Linked DNA regions of Homo sapiens. The protein of the gene in region 1 interacts with the protein of each later gene in a pairwise test. Each region holds a gene or a part of one and is shown in the gene's direction. Other genes may lie near its edges.

Region 1 (3,231 bases):
TCTGAAACATGCACTCCAAAAAATACAAGCAAATTGAATACAGTGACCTATAAAAAGAATTATACACAATGACCAAGTGGGATTTATCCCAGGACGGCAAGGTTGGTTTGAACATATGAAAATCAATTAATATAATTCATCATATCAGTAGAATAAAAACAAAAATTACATGATTATCTCAATAAACACAGAAAAAGCACTGGACAAAACCCAACTTCCTTTCATGATAAAAATACTCCCAACTGGAAAATAGAAGGGAGCTTCCTCAATCTGATAAAAGTTATCTATGAAAACTCATAGCCAAAATTATATTTAATGGAAAAATGATTTTTGTCCTAAAATCAGGACCATCTCAATGCTATCTGCTCTTAGCATGACCATACAACATTACATTAGTGGTGCTAGCCCTAGCAACTAGACAAGATAAGAAAGGCAACTGGATTGGAATGGAAGTGAAAGTGTCTGTATTAGCAGATAACATAATCTTGTATATAGGAAATCCTAAAAAATTCACTCGAAACCTGTTAGAACTATTAAATGAGTTCATCCAGGTTTCAGGATACAAGATCATACATAAAAATCAGTTTTTCTTCTACACACTTGTAATGAACAGTCCAAAACTGAAATTAAAACAATTCCTTTTAGAATCATATCAAAAAGAATAAAATACCTAGAAATAAATTTTAACAAAGAAGTAAAACTTATGCTCTGAAAATTACAAGACATTATTGAGAGAAATTAAAGAGCTAAATAAGTGGAAAGCATCTCGTGTTTATAGATTGGAAGGCTTAATTTACATTGTTAAGATGGCACTACTCCCCAAACTGATCTACAGATTCAATACAATCCCTGTCAGAACCTCAGCTTACTTTATGTAGAAATGGGCAAACTAGTTAGAAAATTCAAGTAGTATCGCATAGACCCAGTACAGCCAAGATGATATTGAAAAATAAGAGCAAACAAAGACAATTCACCTTTCCTTATTTCATGACTTAGTAATTTATTTAGTATTTCCTCATTTCATGACTTAGCATCTTAATGGTAATTAAGATAATGTGGTACTGGCATAAGGATAGGCACATTGCTCAATAAAACAGAACTGAGAGTCCAAAAATAAGCCCGTACATCTGTGGTCAACTGACTTTCAACAAGGGTTTCAAGACCGTACAATGGGGAAAGAATAGACTTTTCAACAAATGATGCTTAGGCAAGTAGATTTCTACATGCAGAAGAATAAAGTTGGACCTCTATTTCATGCCACATACAAAAATTAACTCAAAATATATCAAATACCCAAATGTAAGAGTTAAAGCTGTAATATTCTTATAGTAAATGATAGGGGTACATCTTTATGACCTGAGACTTGGCAAAAGATTCTTAGACATGACATCAAAAGCATAAAAAATAAGAAAAAAATAGATAAATTTGATTTCATCAAAATGAAAAACATTTGTACCTTAAAGGACACCATCATTAAACTGATAAGACAACTCACAGAATGGGAGCAAAAATTTGCGTATCGCGTATCTAATGAAGGACCTGTCCCTAGACTATATAAAGAACTCTTACAACTCAGCAATAAAAAGACAATAACGCAATTTTATAATGAGCAAAAATCTGAACTGATATTTCTTCTAAAAAGATATAAAAATATATACTTATTAGTATATGAAAAAATGTGAGAACCAGAGCATAGGGCCAGGCGTTGGGAGAGCTCCCACATAGGACAAGATGGCATCTTCTGCAGAGCTGGACTTCAACCTGCAGGCTCTTCTGGAGCAGCTCAGCCAGGATGAGTTGAGCAAGTTCAAGTCTCTGATCAGAACAATCTCCCTGGGAAAGGAGCTACAGACCGTCCCCCAGACAGAGGTAGACAAGGCTAATGGGAAGCAACTGGTAGAAATCTTCACCAGCCACTCCTGCAGCTACTGGGCAGGGATGGCAGCCATCCAGGTCTTTGAAAAGATGAATCAAACGCATCTGTCTGGGAGAGCTGATGAACACTGTGTGATGCCCCCACCTTAACCCCTCAGGGATAGTGAGTTGATGGCTGAGCTAGATGTTGCTTTAGCCTTGGTTCTGCCTCCATTTTACATGCACATGTTGCTTAACCTTGTTATATATGAAATATCTATATCACCAGTATTTTGAGATAAATAAAGGTGAAATAATTCACAAACATTAAAAGAAAAGATGCCTGACAACTTTAGTATTCAGGGAAATGCAAATCAAAACTATGATGAGATACCACTTCATATCCACTAGGCTGGCTAGAATAGAAAGATAATAACAAGTATTGGCACAGATGTGGAGAAACTAGAATCCTCATATACTGCTTATGGAAATGTGAAATTGTGCAGCCACTTTGGAAAACAGGATGGCAATTTCTCAAATGATAAACAGAGTTCTCATATGATCTAATATTATATTTATAAGTACATGATCAAGAGAAATAAAAACATAAACACAAATGTTTATAGTGTCATTGTATACAATAGCCAAAAGGTGGAAACAACCTAATGTCTGTGAATGGACAAATGAATAAACAAATTGTGGCATATGCAGCTAATGAAATATTATTCGACAAAAATGAAGTATTGATCACATGCTTAAACATGAATGAACATTGAAAACACTATGCTAAATGAAAGAAGCCTGTCATAAAAGACAAAATATTATATGGTCACATCACATATGATATGATTCCATTCATAGGAAAGTTCAGAATGGCCAAATTTATAGAGTCAGAAGTAGATAACAGGTTGCTTAGGACTGGGAAGGAGAGTTGGTGAGTAGAGGGGAATAGGGAGTAATAGCTAAAACATTTAAGATTGCTTTTCGAGGTGATGAGAATATTCTGAAATCAACTATGGTGATGATGGTACATATCTGTGAATAAGCTAAAAACATTTAATTGTATTCTTTAAATGAGTTGTGTGATATGTGAATTATATCTCAATAAATGTTAAAAATGCAAAAAATGAGACAATGAATGTTTACCATCTTTTCATATGTTTAAAGACCGTTAATATTTCCATTCAATGAACTATTTATTCATACTCTTGACAATTTTCCTTTTTTATTCCATTTTTGTTTTGTTTTGTCTTTTTCTCATTGATTCCAGGAACTCCTTTTATGTCTGAGAGATTAGTACTATCTGGATATGAGTTGCAATTTCTTTTCTTTTTGACTTTGCTTATGATTTTCCCCACAGCAGAAGACTACAATTTT
Region 2 (3,030 bases), on another chromosome or scaffold:
TTCATTTTTGTCGTTGTCTGTTTTTTCTGTTAAAATTAATTTGTTATTCCCATGTCCTAAGATTGCTTGATCTTGATTCTAGATTCTGACATCCAAATCCAGAACGTACACCTTTGGTTGGTGCCAGTCTAGAAGGCTAAACAAGAACAAGGAAGTAGATTTCTGCTCAGACAAGGAGGTGCTAAATAGTTCAAGCTATCTAGCAAGGGGTTTGGTTAGTTCACCAGGGATACAATTCAGGCCAACACGGGATTAAAACCAAGTCTGGGATGTTATAGGAGAAATTGCTATCGCTCATTTGGATGTCTTCTATTACTGTATGATCACAGCTTCTGAGCCTCAGTTTCCCCATATGCATAAGGAAGGGATTCACCTAAATAACCTCTAAGGACCCTTCCAGCTCTTACTCCAGATTCTACCAGAATTTGTCTGTGGCTTTTTTCTAAATCAAAGAATCTCAGAAGTGAGTGGGAGCTTGGAGGTGTACCATGTGTGTTAATAACTTAGCACTGTTTCAGATGCATCTTCATCTCTGTTTTCCTCCAGGAGATCTCATGCCTGCAACTACTCTGATCCCTCCAGCCCGCATAGGTCAGTAACAGCTCTCAGAGACCACAGGAGGCGGTGGCAGTTCTGGGGTACTGTCTGGTTCTGGGGGAAGGGAAGAGAGAAAGGAAGGGACTCATCACTGCAAACCTCACAAAGAGTCAGGCCCTGGAGAGCGGTGCATGGTCGCTCCCCATACCCCCTTGTCCTATCCACAGAGACCCTAGAATTCCTTATCTGACAGCCTCCAATGTGCCCAGCAGGAACCCCACTCCCGATCCCCACTCTGGCAGAATGCCAAGCTAGATGCTGCCATGAGGGAGGACACAGGTGCATTTCTGGAGGCAGAAGGAAGCGAGGGATGCAGAGATGAGAGAGGAAAGCACTGAAGGTGGGGATTGGAGGTGGAGGCTGTGGTTGGAGCCCTTCTTTGTTCGTTGCCAGCCGTACCTTCACCTCTGGATGCCCCGCAGTTGCTGCACTTTGTGGACCAGTATCGAGAGCAGCTGATAGCCCGAGTGACATCGGTGGAGGTTGTCTTGGACAAACTGCATGGACAGGTGCTGAGCCAGGAGCAGTACGAGAGGGTGCTGGCTGAGAACACGAGGCCCAGCCAGATGCGGAAGCTGTTCAGCTTGAGCCAGTCCTGGGACCGGAAGTGCAAAGATGGACTCTACCAAGCCCTGAAGGAGACCCATCCTCACCTCATTATGGAACTCTGGGAGAAGGGCAGCAAAAAGGGACTCCTGCCACTCAGCAGCTGAAGTATCAACACCAGCCCTTGACCCTTGAGTCCTGGCTTTGGCTGACCCTTCTTTGGGTCTCAGTTTCTTTCTCTGCAAACAAGTTGCCATCTGGTTTGCCTTCCAGCACTAAAGTAATGGAACTTTGATGATGCCTTTGCTGGGCATTATGTGTCCATGCCAGGGATGCCACAGGGGGCCCCAGTCCAGGTGGCCTAACAGCATCTCAGGGAATGTCCATCTGGAGCTGGCAAGACCCCTGCAGACCTCATAGAGCCTCATCTGGTGGCCACAGCAGCCAAGCCTAGAGCCCTCCGGATCCCATCCAGGCGCAAAGAGGAATAGGAGGGACATGGAACCATTTGCCTCTGGCTGTGTCACAGGGTGAGCCCCAAAATTGGGGTTCAGCGTGGGAGGCCACGTGGATTCTTGGCTTTGTACAGGAAGATCTACAAGAGCAAGCCAACAGAGTAAAGTGGAAGGAAGTTTATTCAGAAAATAAAGGAGTATCACAGCTCTTTTAGAATTTGTCTAGCAGGCTTTCCAGTTTTTACCAGAAAACCCCTATAAATTAAAAATTTTTTACTTAAATTTAAGAATTAAAAAAATACAAAAAAGAAAAAATGAAAATAAAGGAATAAGAAGTTACCTACTCCATAGGCACAGCAGTCCCGACTGGCTGCTGGTTGGCTATTTTTGTGGTTATTTCTTGATCGTGTGCTAAACAAGGAGTGGATTATTCATGAGTTTTCCAGAGAAAGGGGTGGGAATTCCTGGAACTGAAGGTTCTTCCCCCTTTCAGACTACTTAGGGAAACTTCCAGATGCTGCCATGGCGTTCGTAAACTGTCATGGCGCTGGTGGGAATGTCTTTTAGTATGCTAATGTATTAAAATTAGCATATAATGAGCAGCGAGGACAACCGGAGGTCCCTTTCATCACCATCTTGGTTTGATGGGTTTTGGCTTCTTTACCACATCCTGTTTTATACGAGGAGTCTTTGTGAAACCAGTCCTGCCAACCTCCTATCTTATCCCCACCTCAGACATTACATACTCGTCCTTAATCTTAAGAGGTTGTAGAAGGACAGAGATCTATCTTCTGTCACTGCTTCATGCTGAACAGGGGCCATCATCCCTACCTGCTCTGGAGGCATAGAAATGTCTTCGTACCTGATCGAATGACTTATAGGGACTCCATCTTTTCTGCAGTGGCACAGGCTGGAACACTGGACTAATTATTTTTCTCTGAAACTGTTGTAGCCTGGAAGACATAAACTTGAACCGTCCGAACACCTGATGAATATAACAAATATTTTTAAAATCAAATAGCACCTAGTGATAATTCATAAAATACTTAAGCCCAGTTTTAAAGAAGAGATCAAAGCCAAGCATGGTGGCTCATGCATGTAATCTTAACACTTTGGGAGGCCAAGGCAGGAGGATCACTTGAGCTCAGGCTTTTGAGACTAGCCCGGGCAACATAGACTTTGTCTCTTTAAAAAAATAAGAAAGAAAAAAATAAGAGATCAGATGCCATTTGGAATCTAAGTGAATAGGCTGGAAAACTAGTCTTCTGTTGTCTGAAATACAAAGCCAAACAGATTTTTAATAAGAGAGATTTTTATGAGAACAGAAGAAAAAAAGGTTAATGCTGGACACAGTCTATCCAGGTATTAGACTCAAAAGCATCTTTAGTTATAAAGCAGGAAAGTGGTGGCAATCTGACACGCCTGTATCACA

The links. The genes of interacting proteins can lie anywhere in the genome.
Region 2: the proteins of PYDC2 (region 1) and NLRP1 interact in a two-hybrid assay, tested with the Homo sapiens proteins (one study listed by IntAct).

Annotation. Positions count from the first base shown.
Region 1 is NC_000003.12:191,459,432-191,462,662, forward strand, and holds PYDC2 (pyrin domain-containing protein 2), read left to right. Parts: upstream 1-1,731; coding exon 1,732-2,025; downstream 2,026-3,231. UniProt on the Homo sapiens protein: May play a role in innate immunity by disrupting the interaction between PYCARD and NLRP3, thereby regulating the NLRP3 inflammasome. May also inhibit NF-kappa-B signaling distally by affecting the nuclear accumulation of RELA.
Region 2 is NC_000017.11:5,513,034-5,516,063, reverse strand, and holds the end of NLRP1 (NACHT, LRR and PYD domains-containing protein 1), read left to right. Parts: intron 1-546; coding exon 547-591; intron 592-990; coding exon 991-1,310; 3' UTR 1,311-1,946; downstream 1,947-3,030.